Homo sapiens: one gene and its partners. The protein of the gene in region 7 interacts with the protein of the main gene of each other region in a pairwise test. Each region holds a gene or a part of one and is shown on either strand. Other genes may lie near its edges. The genes, in order: APOBEC3B, KCNK5, UPK1B, BNIP3L, BNIP5, FRK and BNIP2.

What was found.
Region 1: the proteins of BNIP2 (region 7) and APOBEC3B interact in binary tests that used the Homo sapiens proteins (3 or more experiments, as listed by UniProt).
Region 2: the proteins of BNIP2 (region 7) and KCNK5 interact in binary tests that used the Homo sapiens proteins (3 or more experiments, as listed by UniProt).
Region 3: the proteins of BNIP2 (region 7) and UPK1B interact in a two-hybrid assay, tested with the Homo sapiens proteins (one large-scale study listed by BioGRID).
Region 4: the proteins of BNIP2 (region 7) and BNIP3L interact in a two-hybrid assay, tested with the Homo sapiens proteins (one study listed by IntAct).
Region 5: the proteins of BNIP2 (region 7) and BNIP5 interact in binary tests that used the Homo sapiens proteins (3 or more experiments, as listed by UniProt).
Region 6: the proteins of BNIP2 (region 7) and FRK interact in binary tests that used the Homo sapiens proteins (3 or more experiments, as listed by UniProt).

What each region holds. Positions count from the first base shown.
Region 1 is NC_000022.11:38,988,847-38,992,346, forward strand, and holds part of APOBEC3B (DNA dC->dU-editing enzyme APOBEC-3B), read left to right. Parts: intron 1-610; coding exon 611-764; intron 765-2,485; coding exon 2,486-2,780; intron 2,781-3,187; coding exon 3,188-3,303; intron 3,304-3,500.
Region 2 is NC_000006.12:39,222,976-39,226,475, reverse strand, and holds part of KCNK5 (potassium channel subfamily K member 5), read left to right. Parts: intron 1-3,500. UniProt on the Homo sapiens protein: K(+) channel that conducts voltage-dependent outward rectifying currents upon membrane depolarization. Voltage sensing is coupled to K(+) electrochemical gradient in an 'ion flux gating' mode where outward but not inward ion flow opens the gate.
Region 3 is NC_000003.12:119,172,246-119,176,397, forward strand, and holds the start of UPK1B (uroplakin-1b), read left to right. Parts: upstream 1-1,352; 5' UTR 1,353-1,393; intron 1,394-4,152. UniProt on the Homo sapiens protein: Component of the asymmetric unit membrane (AUM); a highly specialized biomembrane elaborated by terminally differentiated urothelial cells.
Region 4 is NC_000008.11:26,386,054-26,389,553, reverse strand, and holds part of BNIP3L (BCL2/adenovirus E1B 19 kDa protein-interacting protein 3-like), read right to left. Parts: intron 1-3,500.
Region 5 is NC_000006.12:36,334,089-36,338,285, forward strand, and holds the start of BNIP5 (protein BNIP5), read right to left. Parts: upstream 2,801-4,197; 5' UTR 2,624-2,800; intron 2,588-2,623; exon of another isoform or gene 1,562-2,587; intron 1-1,561.
Region 6 is NC_000006.12:116,058,092-116,062,116, forward strand, and holds the start of FRK (tyrosine-protein kinase FRK), read right to left. Parts: upstream 2,801-4,025; 5' UTR 2,221-2,800; coding exon 1,877-2,220; intron 1-1,876. UniProt on the Homo sapiens protein: Non-receptor tyrosine-protein kinase that negatively regulates cell proliferation.
Region 7 is NC_000015.10:59,679,321-59,682,820, forward strand, and holds part of BNIP2 (BCL2/adenovirus E1B 19 kDa protein-interacting protein 2), read right to left. Parts: intron 3,195-3,500; 5' UTR 3,138-3,194; coding exon 3,088-3,137; intron 989-3,087; coding exon 921-988; intron 449-920; coding exon 272-448; intron 1-271.

The DNA of each region.
Region 1 (3,500 bases), on a different chromosome or scaffold from region 7:
GCCTTCAAGGTGGGGCTGGTGTTTCCAGCCCAGGAGTCCTGAGCTGCCCCATCTGGCCTGAGAAGCACGTTTGGGAGACCTCATGGCATCCAAAGGGACGTGGAAAATGCTATGAATTATCCAAAAAGATGTCCCTGGCAGGCTCCTCTCCCCAATGATCCCCCTCAGGAGTGTCCCTGCCCCAATGCTGGGTGTGGTAGGAGTTAACCCTGCAGGCAGGAGGAAGCCCCAGCAGGTCCATCTCCAGCAGGGGCTGTGGGTGAGCAGAGCCAGGACAGGGGTGCATGGTGAGGCCAGGGAAGGAGACCCAGCTCTACCCCAGGGAGAGGGGCAGGGTCCTCCCCGGAGGGCCTGAGCACACTGAGCTGACCCTGGGGAGACCCTGACAAGGCCTAAACAGGCCCCGGGGCTGTGTTGACTTCCTGATAATCCACCAGAAGGGGTCAGAGAGAGAGGATCAGTGGCCCCCACAAAGGGAGTGGAAGCGCCTCCTCTGACAGGTGCCTCAGTATATGGGGAGCAGGGAAGGAGTGGGGGGTGCAGGAGAGGAGCGAGAGGTAGTCCCAGGAGGAGTCTTAGGGCTTTTGGTTTCCCCTGTCTTTGTCCACAGATACCTGATGGATCCAGACACATTCACTTTCAACTTTAATAATGACCCTTTGGTCCTTCGACGGCGCCAGACCTACTTGTGCTATGAGGTGGAGCGCCTGGACAATGGCACCTGGGTCCTGATGGACCAGCACATGGGCTTTCTATGCAACGAGGTGACCGACCCAGCCACCTGCATCCAGGCAGGGCCCTCCCAATCCAGGGACACTCATAGATAGAAGGTTCTGGGTGGTGCCTGTGGTTTCCTGCAGTGTTTGTCACTTGTGCTTCCTGCAGCTGCTGCTGCTTGGCCCTGGAGTTGGGGGGAGACTTTGGCTTCAGTGACTCTCCATGGCCAGGTGGGGTTGAGTCTGCCCAATGGCAAAGTGCTTCCTGAGGACCCTCCCAGGATCCCCTCACAGACACAGCTCTCACCAGGAATGATTCGGAACTGTGGGATTTGAGGACTCAGGGCCTACCTGACTCACAAGGCCAGGATGTCCCTGTGCCCTCTCTTGGGCTTCATCCTGCGGAGAGACAGACTGGGGCAGGAGAGGCTGATCAGGGGTTTTGTCCTGCCCAGGGTGGAGCCCACAGCAAGGCCAGAACAGGTCCCATGTCAGGATGCAAAGATGGCCAGCAGTTGGGGAAGAACTGGGCCAGGAAAGGCTGAGGGGGCCAGGCTAGGCTGGCCAGGAGCCCTGAGCCCAAGGGACTTTCTTCCCTGGCCCCTACCCAGCACAGCCTCTGTCTGGAGAGGCCAAGTTCTGCTTGGCTCTGTTGCTGGAAACTGGGGGCTTCTCTGGGCTCTATGAGCTCAATGTGGGCCTCGCTGGATCCACACACACTGCTTGGAACATCCTTTCAAGGGTGCCAGTCTCCATCACCGCCTAAGCAGTGGGACTCCCCCAGGAATGACCCACAGCCCCTTCTCAGCACAAACCATGTCATCCACTTCACCCTGCATCCCCTCTGATGGAATCCCTCCCTGTCTTTGTCCCCATCACAATCACAGTCCTTGCTGCCCTGCTGTCCCCAACTTGACCGATTCCTAGTCTTAGTGGAAAATCCTTTTCTCTGAAGTTTGGAGTAAATACCATATTTCTATAAGTCAAAATAATGACAATTATACCATGTCACAGGGACCTTCCCACATTGGAGTGAGTCCTGCTGGTCTTCTCTTCCCCACTACTTTTGGTGGAATTCATTTTGGCCTAAGTCTATATCACATTTGGGCTCAGCACAGGTTGTGGCACAGAATAGAAGTTTCTAGAATTATGGGCCACAGATGGGATGGGAGTAGGGGAGTTGATGAGTAGAGCAGGTCAATCTCCCCTTGAAGGAAGCACACTCACTCAGGGGCATCAGGCCAATGACCTTGGGGCTCCGCCGGCCCCTCCTCCCTGCCCCCATCTCTGTAGCCCCTCCCTGCAGGGCTGGGTCTGGGGTGAGGGTCCTGAAGGCTCTGACCTTGGGTACAAAATTGATGGGGGCTCCAAATGCTCAGTAATTAGAGAAAACACATTTTAATTTAATAATTAATGCAATATTTTAAAACGCAAATTTAATACAAATAGATCATGATGAATAAAAGCAAAGATTTTAATAAAGCCTGGCAGGAGAGTGCTGTCCTGTGTATATTGGAGCTGGGGCAAAATAAAACCTCATTGCTCCTGATCTGTTTGTATTTAAATGGGCAACATTTTGCTTATCTTGGGATTTTTGCATAACATCTGATATTTTTAATATTGCATAGAAAATCATGCATCCTAATAACCGGGGTTTTGGCGACCCCTCTAATTTCGTGCTGGAGGCCCCCGCCTCCCCAGCCCCACCTGGTCCAGGCGCTCCCTCCCTGTTCACCACACATCACCTCACACTCTGTTTCCTTTTCTAGGCTAAGAATCTTCTCTGTGGCTTTTACGGCCGCCATGCGGAGCTGCGCTTCTTGGACCTGGTTCCTTCTTTGCAGTTGGACCCGGCCCAGATCTACAGGGTCACTTGGTTCATCTCCTGGAGCCCCTGCTTCTCCTGGGGCTGTGCCGGGGAAGTGCGTGCGTTCCTTCAGGAGAACACACACGTGAGACTGCGCATCTTCGCTGCCCGCATCTATGATTACGACCCCCTATATAAGGAGGCGCTGCAAATGCTGCGGGATGCTGGGGCCCAAGTCTCCATCATGACCTACGATGGTAAGAATGGAAGGTTCAGGTGGGGTGGGGTGGGTGGGGGCAGGAGAGGTTCCTGGGAAGAAAAGGAGAAAGGCCTTGGTCTGCTGCCTGCAGAAACGATGGCTGGACTCTGGGACCTGACTTTGGGGTCGATGGGAAGAGAGAGGCCAGGCCAGGAGATATGGGCCCGGGGAGGGTGGCTGGAAGTGGAAGCAGAACTTGGGGATTTCCGAAAGAAAGAGAACTGGGCTGGCCCAGATTCCAATGGGAAGGAAGTACCTGATGAAGGAGCTAAGTCCCTAGGGGAGGGAGAGGGAAAGGAGGGACTGAAACCAGGATGTGGGAAGTCTGTCCTGAGAGTCATGGGCCCTTGGTGCTGCCCCCTCCCCACAACAGGAGCGTGACTTATCTCCCCTGTCCCTTTTCAGAGTTTGAGTACTGCTGGGACACCTTTGTGTACCGCCAGGGATGTCCCTTCCAGCCCTGGGATGGACTAGAGGAGCACAGCCAAGCCCTGAGTGGGAGGCTGCGGGCCATTCTCCAGGTGAGGGCTTCCTCCCTCTGCCTGGTGCCCCATCGGCCTCCCCCTCCTCCCCGCTCCCCTGTGCCTTGCCTTCCCCTCTGCTCAGAGCCTCCTCTGGGTTCCCTGCTCCCCACAGGGCGCCCAGCTCCGTCCCTCCCTTTCCTTCTCACAGCCTCCTTCTCTTTCCCACCTCCCGCATCCCTCCCTCCTCTCCCGTC
Region 2 (3,500 bases), on a different chromosome or scaffold from region 7:
TTACCCTGAAAGTTGTGTGTGCTCTTTCAAATGTGTGAGAAAGGGAGTTAAGTCAACTTTCTTTAGAAATACCCCCCGAATTGTCAGATACTTCCTTCCCTCCGCTGTGGTTGAAGTGAGGTGCAGGCTGACTTTCAAGTGCTCAGTGACCCGCCAGCCTGGGACCACGTGATCGTCCTCTTTCCTGTCTTCAGAACCATCTTGAACCCTTGCTCTCAAGCAAGATCTTTGGTGACTCATTCTCCCAACCTCTTCCTAAATTGCAGACTCACACAAGGGAAGTTAACATTTACAGCACACCTACTCTGTGTTGGGCATTGTGGGTGCTATTATCCTCATTTTATGAGAGAGGGCACAGGCTGGTTTTGCCATCTGGCTCGGCCATTTACCCATCAAGCCATGTAACTTAACTTTGCCTTCCTTTCCTCATCTGCAAAATGAGTGTTTGGTGAGGCTCCAATAGAGTAGAAACATTAGGCAAGATGTCTATAAAAAGTGAACAGGTCTCCTGACCTTAGCATTTATTGAGGAAGGCAGCTTTACCTACCTGCCTTATTTCAGGTACTCTTTACAGTATGTATTCAAGTAAGCAAGCTGAAGCCCAGAGAAGATAGAATGGCCACAGGGACACCACAGGAGGCACAGCCTATGGGGCGGGACGGGGAGGGGCAATGACCAGGCAGTCTGCCCCAGGAGCTTGCACCTCCCTCTTGGGCCTGTGAAGATTGTTGCTCTGTAACTGAGCTTAGGAAATTGGTTCAGCTGGACCCTGATCTGCTGGAAAATTCTATTTTCTATTTCCCCTAGCACAGGTAATGGCATACAGGCGTCTCCTGTGTTGTTGCCTGGCTGACCCAGCACCTCTGTTACTGAAGTAATACATCAGTCCACCCCTCTGCGCTTCTCATTTTGGAAGTCCCCAACCCCTGTCCCACCAAAAACAGTGGGGGTGTGATTGAAGGGGAGGAAGGACAGCCCTTCTCAACCTTCTGCCTCTGGTGGGCAGTGATCAGAAACAGGAAGGATTTGAGAGCCCACCGTGCACCAGACCACTTTGAATAAGCACTTTATATACATTCTTATTTTAATTTAATCTTGCAGGCCACCTCATAAATGAGGAAAATTAGGGGAAAAGCCAGTGTAACTTGTCTGGGATCACATAGAGCGGAGTCAGTTTTCACATCTAAGTTTCATGTTTCAAAGTACATGGAAATTAGCAAGCATTTATTAAGTATCCACCATGTGCCAGACACTGGGCAAGACTCTCAGGATACAAAGAATTAGGCTACACTCCGAGCTGCTGGAGAAAAGGATACATAAACCCACTGGGAACAAGACAGTGGGTGTGGGCTACAGAAGAGGTTTTCAGGAGGTCGCTTAACGAGGGTCTGGTCCAGCCTGAGGGGTCAGGGAGGGCTCTCAGGAGATGACCTCAAGCCAGAGTGGGGTCTTGGATTAGAAAGAACAGCTGGGAACCTGGGAGGTCAAAGCTGCAGTTAGCCTGGATTGCGCCACTGCACTCCAGCCTGGGCAACAGAGCAAGAGCTTGTCTCAAAAAAAGAAAAAAAAGATTAAAGAAAAAAAAAAACCTAACTGGTAAAGGAAGGGAGAAGAGACTCCTAACAGAAGATGGAGAGTGGCCCTTTCTCCTAGCCTGGGGAAGGCAGACTGCAGGTTTCTTGCTGTGGCTCTAGAGAGTCCCTTGTCTCCTGAGGGTGGAGCAGGGTTGCCCTAGGTCCTGCCCTCTGTCTAGCATCCCAGACCAAAGTCCAGGTTTTGCTTGACTGCTCATATAGCTGACCTGTTCCCGGAAGCCTCTTGGATCCCACTGGCCTCCTTCCTTCCTAAGCTCCAAAGTGCTTTCTTGTGTTCTAAGGTTTTCCATATGTACCTCCTTTCATTTTCTGGACCCTTTGGACTGGTCTATACACACTCCAGTCCAAAGTAGTAAGGCTAGTTCCAATTTTGAGGTTCTGGCACTCTTTTAACACCAATCCTGCTCCCCAGATTTGAAAAATAAAACCATGAAATATATGACAAAATTACATGTGGCCAAAATGCTTAGAATGGGGTACATTGAATTTTTTGGAAAGTTGAGGGTTAATATAAACACCCTCTTTGTCTCAGGCCTTGTTGGAAATTGTGAAATGCACTGGTCCACTTAACCGCCTTTGTAAGTAAAAGGAACACAATAGCTCTTTTGGTTATGGAGGATCTTGGAGGCCTCCACAGCCTTGGGTCCGAGCTTGAGTTCTTACTGGCTAGGACTGCAGAAGTGGAAAGTGGATAAGCTGGTTTTTTGAGAGGAAATTGAAGAGGTCCCTTCCTAATGGCTTGTTTCTTATTTATGTTCCACTCAAAAGTTGAGGGTAGCCAAAAAAAAAAAAAAGCCTTAGTCTGCCTTAGTTAACTGCTCTGGTTAGAGTTTTTTAACAGTGAAAGTAAATGTTTATTACATTGCTTTGAGCGTTTGACTAGAACCCTTAGGATGATTACAGATGGCACAGTAATAGAGAATTATTGAGGGTAGAAATTAGCAAGTGTTGAAAGTTTCCAGTGGGGGTGGGGGATGCAAAGGAGGTGATGATTGTTGCTTTTAAATATTTTCCTGGGGTTTTGCCCTATTTATAGTCTGGCGTTTAGAAGAAACAAAATCCCCCGGTTTTGGATGCTGTGCTTGGCTGGCCCTGACCTCGGGCCAAAGGCTTTCATCTTGAACTTGGCTGTTTGCTGGCAGATTGGGCTCAGCCTCTGAACTGTGTGTGTGGTTGGTGGTGGTGGGAGGAGGGAGAGAAGTGCAAGGTTTTGGGGAGCAGAGGAGCCAGGCCCCTGAGTGGAGCCTCCAAGACAGTCTTTGTCCAAATTGGGATGCTGTATTTGCATGGTGCTGCAAGAACCAGTTGGCCAGAACTGGGGTGGTACAGAGAAGTGAGGTAGGAGACCATAGGAAAGCACATGAAATAGGTTTGCCTCCTTCCAATATTCCTTGTAGGGAGTGGAGAAGATGGAAGCGAATCTCTTTGAGATTTCATTGAGTCCCCAGGGACCTCTGGAATAACGCAGAGGAACCCTTGCCTGTTCAGTTCTTCCCAAGTATGGCTGTACATAGAGAGAGGATGTGCTGCCCTCAGTAGGGATCTTTGTCCAGCTGCCACTGCGGGGCCTTGGTGGTGTTGCTGAAGGAATCACCAACCAAGCAGTATGTCTGATGGTTGTGGGAGTGGCCTCTGAAGCCACACCATAGTTTGCTTAGAATAGTGTATGGCACATCGTAAATGCTCACTAAGTGTTAGCTGCCATTTCTGCTATGCCCAGATATTCCTATGCTGCAATGGAGCGGTCCCTGCACAGGTGTGGTGGGAATCTAATTGGTATTACAAAGAATCAGGAAGGTCTTCCTAGAACAGAGAGAACGTCAACTGAATTTTTTAAACGCAAAAAACACAGAAACATATAATTTACCATTTTAGCCACGTTTAAAAGCCCAGCTCAGTAGTGTT
Region 3 (4,152 bases), on a different chromosome or scaffold from region 7:
CCATTAAATGTTTATCTGTGGTGTCATTTTTAACCATTGCACAGAATTCTATTGTGTGAAATATGATAATTTATCTAACAAGGCCCTGAAGAGCTGCAGAGGAATAAGGCCTTGTGATGGACACAGAGGTGCTCCATGCAGTCCCCCTTGAAGTGGGAGGTTGCCCTGCTGCTGGGAGTACTTGCAACCTCCAGCCTCCAGTTATCAGCCCCTTTCAGGACTTGCCTCAGCTACAGAAAGCTGCCTTCCCAGGGTAATCCACATTGAAGGGCAGATCATAGAGGAGCCCAGTGTCAGAGCTACTCTGACAGGCCATCTTCCTCCAGAGTTTCCTGAGGAGGGCTGCTTAAGACTGTCCCATCTATATTGCAGCTCAACTTCTTCCTCTGCCCAGTCCTGTTTCTCCCCTCTCCCTGCCATGGGTGTTAATCTCAGGGCACTGTCTAATAAATATATTGCACACTAAATTTTGTCTCAAAGTCTGCTCCTGAACAACCTAACCTGCAACAGAGATGATGCTGACCTTTGAGGAACTCCCAAGTCTATTGGTAAAAGCACTCAGTAAATTCTAACATTACTGCAGTTACCGATTCCTAACTCAGGTTAAACAAGCGATGGCGCATGTATACCATGATAGGTTATGCAGCCATTAAAATAATGTTCTGGGTGCCATGTATAACACATGATGGCTCCAGAAGTCAGGGAAGAAGGAAAAAAGAAGGGAAGGGAAGAGAAGAGAAAGGGAGGGAAGAAGAGGGGAGGGAAGAATTGGACATCAGATAATCACTTGAGCCCTCTCTCTCCGTGAATTTTTCCCAATCTGTTTCTTTCCACATCTCTTGCTCCTTATCAGTCTTTGGGCCACCTACAGTATGAGCATTACTTGGGCAATTACTGTCTCTCTGAATTTGGCATATGCAAATTATAGAAACTAAAACTGGACATGGCCCTACACAGGTAAGCACATATCAGCATCGCTGTGAGCGGTCAGGACTAACAAGCCTTCAACACACAAAAGCAGGAGTAAGGATCAAATTACACAAATCAAATCAAATCAAATCAAAATAAAATCCCTGAGTTTGTATTCCAGTAAAGCCCAAACCTAGGAGGGATCCAGGAAAGCGATGAGTGTGGCTGTCAAGGTGCTTCCATCTGTCAGAGTCACACATTCCAAAGCAGCAGAAATCAACTGACAGCCTCCGGTTACTCCCCCGCCTCAGCGAGGCAGGGCAGGCAGCGGAAAGCTCAGCCCATGTGAGGTGCCTCCTGCCAATCACAGACTACCCTTCCCTGGTCCTGGAGGTTCAAAGAATTGCAGGAGGGTAGAAAAGCACCTGGGTCGGGTGCAGACTGCGGAGCGGGCCCTACCGTGTGCGCAGAAAGAGGAGGCGCTGTGAGTAGACCGCTTTCCCTCTGCAGGGAATCTCCCGGGCTCAAGGGCTGGGTTGCTCTCCTGGGAGGGAAGCTAGCAGACTGGGAGGGAAAGGGGAAGAAGTTAGATTCTTGATTCATAAAGTCTGTCATTTTTTTCTTTGTAATTTAGGGTATTGTGACTGTCCTGTTCTCTTTTACTTTGAACCGTTGGAATTGCTTTCTTAATACCCTTGATATAAGTCTTGTTCTCATTAAACTTCTGGAGATATTACGCAGCCATCCTGCTTTCAACCTCAGATATCCCCACAGAAAGAACAAGAAAATCCAAGCACCCCGAGAAACCCTATATCTCCTGATTAAATCGCACATAGACAGTCACCTTTGTAGACCCCCAATTTCCTTGTGGAGTCAGAAAAGCAATAGAAAGTTTAACGAAATAGCTCGTGTTATTTCTTAATAATCTGTTCAGGCTAGCAGAGAGAAAGTTTCTTGGTCTTCTTGTCAGAAATCATTTGGTCCTGCCAACCTGTAATGAAATGTGTGAAGCAATTTACTCCCAGTTATTCTCTGCAAACACTTCTGCTTAATAAATGTGTCAGTTGAAGTAAGTCAACAAAGTAGCTTTATCTACGCAATGTTATTTTTACATAATTTGTTTTTACTCCTTACCAATTCTTTGCTCCACCATGATCTGCAGGACATAAAGATATTTTTCATTCTGATCACATTTTCACACAAAATACAAATTTAAGTTTCAAATAATGCTAGTATTATTTTATGTTTGCATTTGTTTATAAACCTAAAACTCCACTTCTAACTAGTTTTAAAGATTTTTAAGCCATTTAAGAATTCGTAGCCAGTCACAGTGGCACATGCCTGCAGTTCCAGCTATTCGGGAAGCTGAGGCCACGTGATCAGGAGTTCTAGTCCAGGCTGGGCAACATAGTGAGATCCTGTCTCTAAAAAAAATAAAAATAAATTTTTAAAGAAGTTTTGTTAACTTGAATGTCTTCTTTTAATGAAAGACAACGTTTCTTGAACATTTCTTGCCTGAGTTGCTAAGCACAACAGGAAAGAACTCATTAGGTTTTATAGATATACATACTTTGAGTATAAACAAAATTTAGGTTACATAGTTTTCAGACCCTATGAAGAAGTGGATTTTCTTTTTATTAACCTTCTCAGTGAGGAGAAAAATTTCTTACTTTGCTTTCTGCTCCAACAGATTGTTTTGCTTTCTGCTATAAAATAGTCTTTAAAATCAACTCACCTATTTTTTTTTTTTTTAACTGCTGGGAAGAATCATAGACTTTTACATCCAAAGGGGACCTTAGACATCATTTAATCAAGGGGAAAAAAAAGAAACTCAGAACTTTTTTTTTCTTTTATTTTCTTTTTTTTTTTTTTTTTTTTTTTTTTTTTTTTTTTGAGACGGAGTCACTCTGAGGCCCAGGCTGGAGTGCAGTGGCGTGATCTCTGCTCACTGCAAGCTCTGCCTCCCGGGTAGATGCCATTCTCCTGCCTCAGCCTCCCGAGTAGCTGGGACTACAGGTGTCTGCCACCACGCCCGGCCAATTTTTTGTATTTTTAGTAGAGACGGGGTTTCACCGTGTTAGCCAAGATGGTCTCAATCTCCTGACCTCGTGATCCATCCACCTCAGCCTCCCAAAGTGCTGAGATTACAGGCTTGAGCCACCGCACCCGGCCAAAACTCAGAACTTCTTTTTGACTTCTCCTGCTTACAATCTTAACCAGAGTAAACACCAGCCAGCCTTTAAATATGCTCTGGAATTTGTGCCTGATAGCCATGCAGGCTGCCCACAAACTTGATGGGCCACCATTCACCAACTGGGACAGAGACCACATTGGTGAGGGGGCACCATCATCACACACCGCCCTACCCGCCTGCCCACCCCCTCCCCCCCGCCCCAAGGACTCTCCATAGTACTCCTGCCCTGGAGCTGGGCATCTCTCTGGCAATGCCCACACCTGAGGCCCTCGTGCAACTGAGTGCTCCTGAGCCATTGCTTACAGCTAGTCCCTGATTTCCAATGGGTGGATGACTCCCATCATACTGGGAGCACCAGGAATCAAGAGCAGTGCTGTCCAGTAAAACTTTCTGTGATGAGGGAAATGTTCTAGATAATAGACACTAACCACATGTATCTAGGGAGTGCTTGAGATGTGGTTGGAGCAACTGAGGAACTGATTTTTACTTTTATTTAATTGAATTCTTTTGACTTTAAATAACTGCATGCAACTACTAACTACTGTATTAGTCAACACAGGTTTAGAGCTTTAAAGCAAGAAAAACTTATGGGCACTGTGAGCCATGGGTGACAGCCCTGGGAGAAACCTCCTCTTTTTGTTATTTCCAGGGACTTATCCTACCTTAAGTTGAAGCAGACCAGCAATTGTTGTGACCTACAATCTCCACACCCATCTTTACTCTGAGCCAAGGAAGTGTCTGTTCTTGTGCTGAGTTTCAGGGTGAGGGCTAAGGCAATCGCATATTGTGTTTCTTTGTTTCTTCCTCTCCTATTTTTCCTTTTCTTTTTTTCTCCTTTGTTAATTCAAATTTCTCTAGCATGAACTAAAGTTTGAGGTGTGGTTTGTGTGTTCTCTGGTACAACAAACTTGGGTGAGGAAAAGAGGTAATGAACTTGAAAAAATGATCTCATGCTTACTGGGCGAGTCTCACTTCTTTTTCTTCTGCTTTGCAAATTGGTTTGTTTAGTGAGCAATTGTTTTTAGACCTTTCAATGTGTCTGGAAACAT
Region 4 (3,500 bases), on a different chromosome or scaffold from region 7:
ACCAATTCCTTAGGACTCTGCTGCCAAACGACACAGTTGTACAACATCTCCATGGCCTCATTCTATACACACATAAAATGGACACAGGCTAGAGAACTCAAAATGGATTAACAAATACAACTAGCAAAGCTAAGAGAGATCTAACATTGAAGATAATTTATCTCGAGTGCCTCTGGAGTGTATAAGAAATACGCCAAAAGCATCCCTAAATTTAGAGCTCTGCAACATATTTCAACTGGAGAGAAAGGGGGTGGGGGAGAGAATATGTATATAAAAACAGTTTTTTTTTCTGACTCTCACTGTTTCTAGGATTTTCAAACTTATTTTTAAACCAATGGGACCAGTTCTTCTTGTATAGAAGCCTAATGTGTACAATAGTAACAAACCAAAACCCAGAGCTGCTCTGACAGAAGCAGAGGTAAGGAACCAGGAGTTCCAGATAGGTCTCTGTGGAAGTCAGTCTTCCCTAAAATACAATTAATATTCACTTGAAGTAGGCAATCGAAGAGAAAAAAGGGTGTAACAAACAATATCAGGTTTTCTGGTCCTTACTTTTGTTTTTCTTTTGAGACAGTCTTGCATTGTCACCCAGGCTGTAGTACAGTGGCACAATCACAGCTCACTGCGGCCTTGATTCCTGGGCCCAAGCAATCCTCCCACCTCAGCCTCCCAAGAAGCTGGGACTACAGGGCACATGCCACCATGCCCGACTTATTTATTTATTTATTTATTTATTTATTTATTTAGTAGAGACAGGGTCTCCCTACATTGCCCAGGTTGGTCTCAAACTCCTGGGCTTCAGCAATCCTCCCACCTCAGCCTCCCAAAGTGCTGGGCTTACAGGTATGAGCCACTGCTCCCAACCTGGTTTTTACTTTTTTGAAGGACTTTCAAATCAATGTCTGGATCCTATTTTCTTCATTAAAAACACATAAGCAATCATAATCCAATATATACTTTTGGAACCTGAAAGAGACATACCTAGAAAAGCTTAGTAAAAGTGATCTCTGCTGTGGCCTCCACACCCTGAATCATAACTGAAAGCATTTCTACTTAAGGCGGACAATTTGTACTTGGGATACACTGGTATAGTGTGGTCAGGGGCTGAGACTGAAGCCAGGCTCCCACTCTCAGTTATAGCTGTTACCCTCGCACAGGGTACTTAACCTCTTTGTGCCTCAGTTTTCTCATCTATAAAATAGAGATAATAACTGTATCTACCTCGAAGACTTTGTTAGGAGGATTAAATGAATATAGCACGCAGAACAATAAGAAAGGTCCCTAAGAAAGTTTTAGCTACTACAATTATATTCTATATCATAGAAAAACCATTCCTTACTGGAAAAATGTGTTCCTAGAAAACGTAAACATCAGTACATAAAATTAAAAATTAACATCTCTCCCAACCTCCCGTTCCTACTCCCAAAGGAGCCACTTTTGACAGTTTCACATGGAGACTTGCAGAGTTTTTGTCAATGAAATATAGGTCTGTTTTTGCTTTTGTTTTTATAAAGAAATGGAACTGTACCATACACACATACTGACATATTCTGTAAGTCGTTTTTCAGATGTCTTCCCTATCAATATATACTGACATTCATTCTTTTGAACAACTGCATTGCATCTCATCTTTTATAAAGATATACCATACTTTAACCATTATCTAAATGGCAATGGTTAACTACTACTGAGATGGTTGTTTCTAATACTTTGTTATTACAATTAGGGCTTCAGTGAACATTCTGGAGAATAATTTGACAATAGGTATTAACAGCCTTAAAAGTGTAGATTTCCTTTAATTAATTAAGGGTAATTCTCTTTCAAAAATATCATCTATGGAAATACATAGTGGTACAGAGAAAGTTATGTACACAGGCATTAAGAGGCTACATATTAATCTTTTGAGTAACACATAAAAAAGCAAATGTGTCTTCCTCAATAGATGAACAACACGTCTGTTTCCCATCACCCGATTTGTTCCTGATTTACAGCCTCAGAATTTCTTAGTGTTCTAACTCTACCAATCCTCACAAAGTCCCTTTTTACTTGGAAAGGAAACAAGGCTAGATAAGAGGTTTGTGCTGTCCAAGCAACACAAAGTAGAAAACAACCACAGAGTGAATTCTCCTCCTAATGATCAAGCTTGAAAACTAAAAGCTGGAAGCTTTCTCCATTATCTAAAAGACTTTACAAACTAAGAGCTGTTCCTTATGCCAATTTGTACATAACATACAATGACATGAGATATTTTCTGGTTTGGGTTTTTGGGAATGACTAAGAGATTCAGAGAAACTTCTGTGAATGCTTCTCCGTTCTCTAACATAATAGACTGTGAAGGGTGGTCCAATAATTGTGATTATACTCATTGCCGTATGTTGTATAATCTTTACAGTTTTATAATCACTAGTTCAATCCTCTTGCAAGAAGAAGAAGAGAGGAGCTTTGGGACAAGGGGAGGAGAGAATGAAGAGTATTTCTCCTCATCTTTCCCCCTAACTTTTCAAGGCCCACATGTAACTCTTTTGAAATTTCATTATATTTACATTCTTTCCTCAAAGCTTTTCATTCATTATTGAAAGGAATCCAGACCAGGCCAACCTGATGCTGAAATCCAGACCAGGCCAACAAGAGTTACTGGCATTCTTCTTAAATAAAAAAATAAATAAATAAATTTTTGAAAAGTTGGTCTTTTTGCAGCAGTATGTATTTACATACAAGTTACGTAGGTATTCAAAACATTATTATGAGGCAGTGACAATCCATGAAGGCCTTAAGAGCACTCTTCATAACAAGAAAGCAAGGACATTGTGCTTGAAGATGTTTCTATTTAAAAAAAAGAGTTTGTGACCAGCTTGGGCAACAAAGCAAAACTCCATCTCTACAAAAAATAAGTTAGCCGGTGACCAGCCTGGGTGACAAAGTGAAACTCGAACTCTACAAGAAATAAAATAATTAGCTGGATGTGGGGGTGCACACCTGCAGTCCTAGCTACTTGGGAGGCTGAGGCAGGAGGATCACTTGAGCCCAGGAGGTCTAAGCTGCCATGAGCTATGACTGTACCACTGCACTCCAGTTTGGGTGACAAAGCAAGACCCTGTCTCAACAAAACAAAAAACAAAAAAGAACAAGAAAATTTGAAAAGAAAAAAAAGGCTATACTTCTCAACAACAAGAATTATACTACGATTTACACTACTACTTTGATTTTCCTTATTCGGCCCTATTGAATCTTATTCAAACATTCTTAAGGAAGTTGATAGTTTTCTTAACAATAAAACAAACTGGACAACATCCTTTTGACTTGGAAGGAGTTTGGGTATTTGCCCTGTAATTTTTAATGAAAGTGAACAGTCTCTCCACAGCGGTAAAGTTAAAAAAAAATCACAAAAATACTTCACTATTCAAATACTTCAGTAATTTGCTATTGAAACCCTGCTTTGACCCCTGAACCAAAGATAAAATCCCAAACGCAAGATAATCTGTACATTTCTTCTCCTGTTT
Region 5 (4,197 bases), on a different chromosome or scaffold from region 7:
CAGCAGTATCCTCCTACCACATTCCAAGGACACGCTGCTCCTCCTGATCAGAACATTAACACAATCCCACCAGCACATGCTTTCCCTGATGTTTTTTCAGGAAAGCTGCGGTGATTTGGCCGCTCCCTCCCTGGAATAACCGGTGCCCTGAGCCCCCGGGGAGATGAGAGGAACTAAGGCCAGGAGCCCCCGCAGCTGCTGCTGCTGAGCCCAGAGGCAGGCAGGAAGGGGGCCTCTGCTATCCAAGAGTTTCCCCAGTGAAGAGATTCCAGGGTCTCCCAAGGTTTCCTAATTCCAAATCCAGTGGCCTCTTCCCATGTCTTGTCCTCCCTTACGTGCTTCAGTATTTGATACCAGCCCTACTTCCTTCTTTTCTCTTTCCTCTCTGGGTGGCTGTGACTGTCCTCAGTCCAGCTCTCTCCTCCCTCTCCCCCGCTCCAACTGCTCCTCCTCTGTAATGTTCCAAAGATTGTCTTCAGCTCTAGGCCAGGGATTGAGACAGCGCGGCTGACTGGGGAAGACACACCCACACGCCCCCAGGAAGACCCCTGAAGAACCTCTGCGGATGGGGTGTCCTCAGTCTCTAAGCCCTGGGAAGCTTGTCTTTTAATCCTAATAACCTCCCCTTTCCTACATGTGCCAAAATTAAACCGTTCAAGACTTTCCAAATATAAAATTCTGCTATCCAGGATTTATCAAAGCAAGACTTTCCTTTCCTTTCTTCTTCTTTTTTTGTTTTGTGCCCCAGGTGCTCAACTACGTTCAGTCCGACCACCAGGGAATCCCACCCTGTGCAGACTGTGCTCCAGACCAGGAATCCTAAGTGAGCAGCGTGGTCTCACTATGCGGAAACCCAGCTGATCTTGTAAACTTGTTATTGCCTTGGCCGAAAGTGGATGTCAGAGCAAAGTCCAAATCAGCTCAGAAATACCCAAGTGATCTGCACATCACAAGACTGCTTCTGATAAGATGTGACATTTACCGGTGACATGTCCAGCAACAGCAACAAAGAACCAGAGAAGGCTCACAAAGCTGACCCTGGAACGGGAAGTTTGCTTGCCTTCCCCAAGCTTGCTGCTGTGTGTTGTTTACTTTCTAAGTTGCACGGTGACCTCATCTCTATGCTGTTCTCTAATTTGTTCACCTGGCCGCGTTACTCTCTAACTGCTCTGGTGCCTTTCATGGAGATAACTTCGCGGCTCCCCTTCTCCACCCCATGATTCACACAATAGAAACTTCACAGAGAGCCAACCTGCTGCACACCCACAGCAGCACCCTGAGGGACAGAGTGTGTGGCACACACACGTGGACCCACAGTCAACACCACAGACATCCACGTGTCACCAGAACACACTTGTGCACACCACAGACCAACATGGACTCAAGACGCCCTGTATTTCTCCTGTCCCAAGTGTAAGGGAATAATTATGTGACCAAGCTCACCGCTTGCCATCGGTCCTAACTCTAAATTCCATGAGAGGGGACCTGAGCCTGGGAGGCTCTCAGTGTTTGTGAAACAAACAAATGATACACAGGCATGTGCAAACCCAAACCAGCTCACCTTCATGCAGCCACACGGCGTCCAGAGAGCCGTTTCATTGACATGATCTCATTTCATCTTTGCCAGGAGCAGTGAATCAGATGGGCTAACAGTGGGGCACTGAGGCTCCGGACCATTAAGAGACACGCCCAAGGTCACATAGCCGGGAAGCAGAGAGCTGAGACTCTCCCACTTCTCCCGATTCAAATCCTACATTCTCTATTCTACACCAAATGGCCTCATGTAAGCATAGATACACATGCACGCACTTACACATGGACTTAGGGGAGAAACCTGCTATTTCACACTGATGGAGGTAATCACAGTCACATACACACCTACCATGACCTATGCACATGGAGTCACACAATCACGTGTGCCTAGGTATAGACACCCATGCCCTCCCCACCCCATTCTGTCCTCTATCCAAGACCACGGGCAATGCAACACTGTGTGAGGAGTCGGTCAGGACTGTGGGTTATAATCCACCTCCCAGCCTCTACATTCCCATCCAAGAGAGCAGTAGACCATGAGTTATTTTAATAAGATTTCCCCATTCTTGGACTAACTTCCAAAAACCTTAAAACTCATAGAACCTTAATTTAACCATAGGTCATAATAACACCTCTCATTTATCAGGGGGTTCCCTCATGTACCTTCACATAAAGTCTATAACTTGACCTCTACCACATCCTGAGGGAAACTAGCAGGTGAGCTATGTAATGCTGCCCCATCCTACAGACAAGAAAACTGAGGCCCAAGGAAGTGAAGTTCCTTGCTCAGGGTGGCGGCTAATAAGCAGGATTGGGACTTGAATACAGAGTTTTAAGTCCGAGTGAGCCCAGAGCCCTTTGAGAAACACCCCGTTGAGATAATGTCATTGAACCTTGCTCCCTCTTTTTAGAGATAAGAAAACTGATCCCCCACCTCCACCCCCATTGCCTCTCTGGGAGGGCCCAGCATGCTGGAAGCAGCATTGGGACTGGACTCTTGGTTTGACACCCAGGACTAAACTCTTCTCCGGACCCCAAGATACATACCCACTGCTCCCGCCCCCAAAGGAGAGGGTATTGTTCAACCAACCTTGGACCACAGAAATCGCTTCTGTCCTGAACACCCTGGGCTGGGATCTTCAGACAAGAGGTCTCTGTGTTAGGCTCTGCTCCCTGTCAGCTGGAAGTTGTGTCCAGTGAGAAGTCAGACCCAGCTCTCCCAGGGAGAAGATGCCACTACTTTGGTGCTGGCAATTTTCTGAGTGTCTCAGAAGATGCTTTGGCCGTCCATATATACAGTATCTCCCAGGAACTGAGCTCATGGCAGCCAATCCAGAGAGCCATGGGCTGGCTCACCTTCCTCCACCTGTTACCACCCATCCCAGGACTGCTCCCCGCTCCTCCAATGATAAGAGGCTTAGCTCAGCTACCCTGGAAAAAACAGTTTCACTTGTCAACTTCCTTATTGCACCCAAACCCCAGTAAGAAACCAAAGCTCAGAAAATAACCTAAGGTCTGGCTGGGGAAAACCCCACCTGTAGAGTTGAAAACAAGACTTAATGGGAAATGCAGGTTAGGGGGAGAAAGTCGAGGTGGCTTTATTGCCTTTACAACATCCCTCAGTTATCTTTGAAGATTAGTGGGGAGGGAGGTACCTAGAAAGAAAGGTCAGCGATGGGATACATACATCCCTTGACCTGGAGACAACCCAGAAGGAAGAGCCCACAAGAGCCACGTGTTCCAGATCTGCTATGCCCGGGAAGGGTTGCCATGGATCTTGAGAGAACATTCTAAGAAGTCTTAAAAAGTCAGATTTCCACTTTCTGTAATGCCTTATTTTAAAAAATAGAGTGTAAATACATGTTTATAATCAGAAAAGAAAAACATGTTTTATTAAAATGAAAGCAAAGGCCGGGCACGGTGGCTCACACCTGTAATCCCAGCAATTTGGGAGGCTGAGGCAGGCGGATCACCTGAGGTCAGGAGTTCGAGACCAGCCTGGCCAACATGGCGAAACTCCATCTCTACTAAAAATACAAAAATTAGCCAGGTATGGTGGCAGACACTTGTAATCCCAGCTACTTGGAAGGCTGAGGCAGGAAAATCACTTGAACCCAGGAGGCAGAAGTTGTAGTGAGCTGAGATCGTGCCACTGCACTCCAGCCTGGGTGACAGAGTGAGACTCTGTCTCAAAAAAAAAAAAAAAAAAAAAAAGAAAAAAAAAGAAAAAAATATTAAGAAATTCTGTTTTGGTTCATTAACACAGGGAGGCATCACAAAATATATATGGAAGCACCAAACTTTGGAGTCAGCCCCATCTGGAGACACCTGCCAGCTGTGTAACCACAGCAGGGGACATGATGTCACTGAGCTTGTGCTCACTTATAAAACAAGTAGTCATCTCAGAGGGTAGTTGGGCCAAATGCGATAATGCTTACAAAGAAAAGAAGAAGGCCAGGCATGGTGGCTCACATCTGTAATCCCAGCACTGTGGGAGACCAAGGTAGGAGGATTGCTTGAGCCCAGAAGTTCAAGACCAGCCTGGACAACATAGTGAGATCTTATCTCTACTAAAAATTTTAAAAATTAGCCAGGCATGGTGGCACATGCCTGTAGTCTCAGCTACTCAGGAGGCTGAGGCAGGAGGATTGCTTGAGCCCAGGA
Region 6 (4,025 bases), on a different chromosome or scaffold from region 7:
TAAAACTAACAGATTATGAATTCAAGGCATGAAACATTAATATATTATTATTATAATATACATGTTATGCCAAATATAAAATATGCATAATGCCATACAGGACATAGAAATCATAAAGTAGTGAAAACAGATAAATGCACATAAGTGTATCCAATATATAAAGATATTTCCTGTAGATTATCACAGAAAGCAAATGTTCACACAGGTGATTTTCCCACTTGATAACTGATCAATTCCATTCATTAAAAGTATATTTCAATTCATTTCTATTTAAGCATAAATTAAGACCCTTCTAAACATTTATAGGTTCTTGGTGTTGAAAAGAATCTCAAAACTCAAAACTCGTCAAACCTCCCTTCATATGTGATGTATGAGTTTGGAAAGCAGAAACAATGCTCTATGGCTATTTATTATTATCTTATTCCCTGGACCAGTAAGGGACGCTCACATAAAAATAAGAAACACTTACATGAGAACATAAGAGAATCTCCAATGGTTTCCCTATTAAGAAACCATTCTATAAAATGAGTCCATTTTGGCCGGGCGCGGTGGCTCACGCCTGTAATCCCAGCACTTTGGGAGGCCGAGGCGGGCGGATCACGAGGTCAGGAGATCGAGACCATCCCGGCTAACACGGTGAAACCCCGTCTCTACTAAAAATACAAAAAAATTAGCCGGGCGTGGTGGCAGGCGCCTGTAGTCCCAGCTACTTGGAAGGCTGAGGCAGGAGAATGGCGTGAACCCGGGAGGCGGAGCTTGCAGTGAGCCGAGATCGCGCCACTGCACTCCAGCCTGGGGGACAGAGCGAGACTCCGTCTCAAAAAAAAAAAAAAAAAAAAATGAGTACATTTTTTGAAAGACATTCCCAGTCTAAGGTTTCACTGGATTCAGGAAGCAATGAGATCAGGGCCAATGACAGTCTCCATTTGCTTCCCAACCCACCAGACCCCAAGTATCCATTGTCAAGACTATGTTTTATCCACTTTGTATTCAGTCACTACTAGAATAATCTCCTTTACCCTCCCCAACTCACCAGGCCCACTACTGTCTATGCCTGGCACTTGGAGGGGTGGTAGGTGGATGGATGGATGGATGGATGGATGGGTGAATAAGTACATAAAAACTTTCCTCTTTTGTTGCAATATAATTCATATTTCATTCAAATACCAGGATAAAGTCTTTATCTCCTCTTCAAGGAGATGTTGTCCTTTTTCCTATCAAAATTTACCAAATGTCTGTAGCTGGCCAGTTTCTAATCATAATAAAAACCAAAAGATATCATAATTTGGGTAGCATATCTCAGGATCTGGGAATTAAAAAAAAATCTATATCATGATGTCACTGAGAACATTAGTATCTTCTAAGTGTTGTCTTCTACATTAGCCCTGTATATTCCCATCAGAATGAAAGGGATTAGGATTAGAGCTAGGGCTAGAGTTGATATATTACCCTGGAATGTTTCAAAAGTTTTTTTTAAAAAAAAGAATCTGAAGTTTAGATTTGAGAATATCATTAAGGGAAGTCTTATAATTTACCTTCAAACAAAATGCAATTTTATTGCTAAAGTGAGGCATGAGTTATTTTACAGCCAAAGAGAAGGTACAGTATTAAACACATCATTTGTTTATTTTGAAAATACACCCTGGACCTGTGGATGTACATACTGTAATTGAAGTCATCTCAACAACAATTACTGGCCAGTTTCACACTCACTTAGCGGGGGAGGTGTGTTTCAATTAGTGGTTTCTTGCCAGTACTTCCTCATACTTTTTAGGCAACTCTTTGGACATTAGGGGGTTGTAGAGAAGTAGAAAGGAAAACTCATTACCCAGCCCTCAGAGAGTTCAGAAATTAAGTATAAGTTTGTACTACTCACGGCTCTGCCTGTAGGCTTCTGTCCTCAGCCACGTAGTTAGAAGGAATATAGCCTTGTAGTTGCTGACTGGAGCCATCTCGTCTTTTCTCCAAGTGTCTGGCAAACCACCAGCCCTCATGCAAAGTGTCCAGAACTTGAAGTTTGTCACCTGCTCGGAAGCTCAAGTCCTCAGCAGTCCGAGCCTGGTAATCAAACAAAGCCACAAAGTAGTGGCCATGCCTCTGTGACTGGGGAGAGCAAAGGGCCCCTGGATTTTCAATCACGGTTGACTTGTCTGCCTCCGTGGACAAACAGGGGAGATAGGGTTCTAGGTACTCCCAGAGCCTCTGACAGATGTTGCTCATTGTGCCTTGGTGGGGAGAAGAGGAGCAGGGCTTCTCCCTCTCCCCTTAGTCTCTGCGATCCACCTTATCTTCCTTCACCAGGCAACTTTGAAGTCAGCACCAACTCACCATACTTCGGAGAGTATGCAAAGTCCCGTTTCAGATCAGTCCAGCAGCTGGGTTGCAGCAAGTCCTACCTGGAGAGACTTACCGGCTTGCTTTCTGTGGCTGGAGGTGCTACCCCGAGGCAAAACTGAGCAGGAGCTGGGCAGCTGCTCACTAGGAAGGTGTCTTTTCTTCTTATCTGCTTAAGAATCCCACAACAAAAATAAAATAAAATTAAAAGGGCTTTATTTAGACAAATATCTGAGAACAGAATGGTGCCATCTTGCCTTTTGTCCCAATAAAAAGTTAGCAAGAGGAAGCTACTAACCCCTGGTAAAACCTCCACGTCTTGCTTTCGCCAGGAGCTCTCCCCCTGTTTCAAGTCTGTTCCTGTCTTTCGACCAGTCCGGATCTGGACGGCTCTCTCCTTTTTGCTAATGAATAACCAACCAGCAGAGGCTGTTGCCTTTAACATTCTGAGCTATGAACAGACTGTAATAATTTCCCCTTACTTCCTGGTTTCTTTCTGTCTGTGATCTAAATGGTATTCTGACCTCTTTACCCCTCCCATCTCCCACACCCAAGATAGACCAGATCCTTTACCAAACTGTTAAAGCAGCCGCTAAAATCTATATTCCTTTTGTTTCATCCTGGAGAAACAGGCTAGCCCAGGTAGCTTTTTGTCTTGTTATGTTCCCAGCACTGAAATTCACGGCAGAGATTTTTTTCCCTGACAAATAGGAGTAGAATTGTTTTGCCACCACTAGGGGAAATTTAAAAAGGCAAATTAAAGTATTTAGGTATTTCTTGTCAGACACAGAGCAATTGGAAAAGAACCATCAAGTCACTCCCTTTTCTCATTACCAAGAATAGATTTTAATAGCTTCAAAGAATAGTCACAGTCTGGAAAAGTAAGAAAGCAGCTGACTAAAATGCTGAGAACCCAAAATGTTGCTTTTTCCCACAGACATTTAATTTCCTATCCTTCAAGTACTATTTGGGAAACACACACACACACACACACACACACACACACACGCTACACACCAACTAGGTGACCAGTAGAGAAAAAAAGAGTAGAACAGAAAAAGAGCTCTTTGCACACTGCTGTGGGGGCTCTTTCTGCTAAACTTTGACCTCCAGATCTATGCTAGTTCTTACTAACTTGGCAAGAACTCAGGAACTAATGAGACTGACATCAGGACAGCCATCTCTAGACAGGCAGTGGTTTTTGCTTGACCTTCCCTAGTTCGGAGCAGCTGTCTCACAAATATGTGCCCTGGCAAAAACAGCCGGGCAATGAGTCTGGCAGATCAACGTACGGTCATTTATACTAGTAGACAGCATTGCAAACTTGTTTATGAAGTGTCACTGATCTCTCTATAAGACTTTTTTTTTATTTCTTTCTTAAAAACAATCTTTCTAAATGTTGTGAGACCCTTGAACCTGGCTAACCTATTCCTAGTACAAGCTCATAACTTCTGTTCTTTTTCAAATTGCAAGGCATTTAGTAATCAGAATAATCAAACTCAAGAAAAAGGAAGAAAGAAAGGAAGAAAGAAAGAAAGAAGAAAGAAAAGAAAGAAAAAGAAAGAAAAGAAAGAAAGAAGGAAAGAAAGAAAGAAAGAAAAGAAAAGAAAAGAAAAAGAAAATCAGAGAACCATGGCATCAGCCCAACCTGCTATTACTTTGTGCAAAAATCAGTCCATAGCAGTGGACAG
Region 7 (3,500 bases):
ACTTGATTGACTAAAAAAGAGCATGCCATAATTATCAAGAAATATTTTTGAAACAGCTATGAAAAAAACATGAGAGCAGTGGGCAAATAAGAGGGGAAAAAAGCCACTGGTGTACTCTATACACACTTTTTAAGTCCTTGAGAATATTCAAGGGTTAGCACAATTTCCTATCTTAGTAACAAATATATGAACTTTAGAAAGAATGATGTATTTCAAACAAAATCCCTTAGTACATTAATAAAGATCAGATTAAAAACAGTGAAACATTTACCTTCCCACTCAAACTCATTACTATTCTCTGACGGTGTGTCTAAGCCATCTAAGTCAATCTCCCCACTTTCATCCAAATCATCTGACAATACAGAGCCATCACTAGGATCCAGTGTCAGGCTAATGTCTGGAGCCATTAGTTTCTTTCTCACTTTATTTCCATTAACTTCTAGTGAGCCTGGAATTGGAAAATAAAGAAAAAGATACGTAACAAGGAATGCTTAGATGCTAAAGTTGAATAAGAAAAATTTTAACTACCCCATTCTTGGGAAAAAATAATATTAATTGAACATAATTTCAAAGCACCTATTCACAAAATTTTTATTCTGATCATTATTGCTTCTACATCGTTGGCAAGAGATCAATAAAGTATCAATGTCTTTTAAATAGAGGCAGACCTTATAGATACCTCTTACCACTAAAAATGATCTCCTCCACCCCTTTACTGTAAAACTTTCCAAAAACCAAGTGTATGTTTTTGGAATTTTTTTTAAAGCATTCTAAAAATGCTTTCCTCAATGTTCAACTTATACTTTGACTTCTATGATGGAATAAAAACTCAAGTTTTTTTTTTTTTTGGACAAAGAAACGTGTTTTAAAAAATAACACAAAGTCCATAATTTCAATGAAAGTAAGTGTCAAGCTCTTACCAGGCTGGTCCTCTGGTCCAGTTATAGCTAGTATATCTGCTTCAATACTATCATCTTCTGGTAAAGGTCTAGAAGACACAGGCATACTTTTTAATCCAGAAATTAAGAAAGAATTTTTTTTTGAAGTTCAATCTATTAAACATACAGCTTATAGAAATAATTATTTGGAAAATGGAATAAAGCAGTGTTGTTGTTTTTGAGACAGGGTCTTGCTGTCTGTCACCTAGGCTGGAATACAATGGCACAATCATGGCTCACTGCAGCCTTAACTCCTGGGCTCAAGAGATCCTCCCGAGTATCTAAGACTACAGGTGCGTGCCACGACGCTTGGCTAATTTTTAGTAGAGACAGGGTCTTGCTATGTTACCCAGGCTGGCCTTGAACTTTTGGGCTCAAACGATTCTCGTGCATTGACCTCCCTAAGTGTTGGGATTACAGGCATGAGCCACTGTGCCCAGCCTAGCAGTGTTTAAGATAAAGTCTCAGCCTTCTGAGTAGCTAGGACTACAGTGGCACACCAACATGCCCAGCTAATTTTAAAAGTTTTTTTGGTAGAGACCGGATATTGCTATGTTGCCCAGGCTGGTCTCAAGCAATCCTTCTGCCTCGGCCTCCCAAAGCACTAGGATTATAGGCGTGACGTGCTATGCCTGGCTACACTTTCAAAGTAAAAATTCTGACTGTCAGAGCTGACTTATACACTTATTATATATAAGTAACACATAAAAGTAGATATAAATTCCTTATGCAACAGCTCTTATACAATTATAAAACATGTAACAATTTTAAACAAATATGACTGAAATGCACAAATATAATGTGATGTATGATGCAATGTATGAAGCTCAATTTTTACTCACGAGACTACAGTAACAATGGTTCAATTCTTCTGAGATCAGCATTCCTATATTTACTATCACCACCATATGCAACAGTGACTCAGGTCTCCGATCAGCTGTCCAACTGCTAAGCTATCCAACTGCTAAGGCACCTGATTATGCACTAGGATGTCTTCTGACAAGTACGGCACGGAAGCACTATTTAAACTTAAGGTCTGCCTTTGCTCTCTTTTTCATTAGCCTACCTGGTGCCAATATAATTGTAAATACAAATGCAAACATGTCAAGGTGGCTGGCCAGATAAGCTAGAAAATCCTTATTAATTTACTTAGTAAGGTTTTTTTTTTTTTGGTGGGGGGGAACCCACAAATTTTTTTTTTTTTTTTTGAGATAGAGCCTTGCTCGGTCGCCCAAGCTGGAGTGCAGCAGCGCGACCTTGGCTCACGGCAACCCCTGCCTCCTGGGTTCAGGTGATTCTTGTGCCTCTGCCTCCTAAGCAGCTGGGACTACAGGCGAGCGCCAAGCCTGGCTAATTTTTTGTATTTTTAGTAGAGACGGGGTTTCACCATGTTGGCCACGTTGGTCTCAAACTCCTGGCCTCAAGTGATCTGCCTATCTCGGCCTCCCAAAGTGCTGGGGTTACAGGCGTGAGCCACCGCACCTGGCCACAAAATTAAAGAAACATTTTAAAGACAACTAAAGACCTCCTTCTCTGAGGAATCCCTCAGATCTTGTTTAAATGAAAACAAAAACAAAACAAAACAAACAAACCACACTAAAACACTTTATTATAAAAGCAAAAATTTGCAAACTTAAGTGACCAAAACAAAAATGAAAGATTATAGAAGATTATATATATACTTGGTTGGAAAGTAAGATACAAGAGAATCAATCTAACTGTTCCGAAGAAACTTTACTTCCTAGTATCAAATGATCGCCTTGTATTACTGAGTTTCTCAGTGACATCTCAGCTGTGCAGTGGCTCACACCTGTAATCCCAGCACTTTGGGAGGCCAAGGCAGGCAGATCACGAGGTCAGGAGTTTGAGACCAGCCTGGCCAATATGGTGAAACACCGTCTCTATTAAAAATACAAAAATTAGCCAGGCGTGGTGGCGCACACCTATAGTCCCAGCTACCTGGGAGGTGGAGGCAGAAGAATTGCTTGAATCCAGGAGGCGGAGGTTGCAGTGAGCTGAGATCGCGCCACTGCACTCCAGCCTGGGCAACAGAGCAAGACTCCGTCTCAAAAAAAAAAAAAGTAACATCTCGATAAAGAAATTTTGAACTTTTGCTCTAAAATTGTTTTCTTTTAAAAGCATTGCTCACATCGGAAAATCTTCATCTTGCCATTCTTCTTTAAGTTCCACACCTTCCATCCTCAGCCTGGATTCAATGTCAACTACAAACTCTTGATAATCCAGGGAGCCAATGTCCTATGAAGAGAGAAAAATGTATAACTTAATTTCCACTTTACTTTTTATCCACTGAAAAGGCGTAATAATCTTATATATTAGTTCATACTTGATGTTTAGTACAATGGTCTGGTCATGAAATTCATTTACAGGGTTGCAATTTTTTTTTTTTTTTAAAGAAAAGAGAATACTCAGACTACATATATTCTGGGAAAGTTAAATACTGTTTATAGTAAGGATACTGTTCAGTGAAAATACTTGTTTTCAGTTGCATGTATAGTATCTCAGGTTATGATTGAAAATATATTTCATACTATGGATTATATT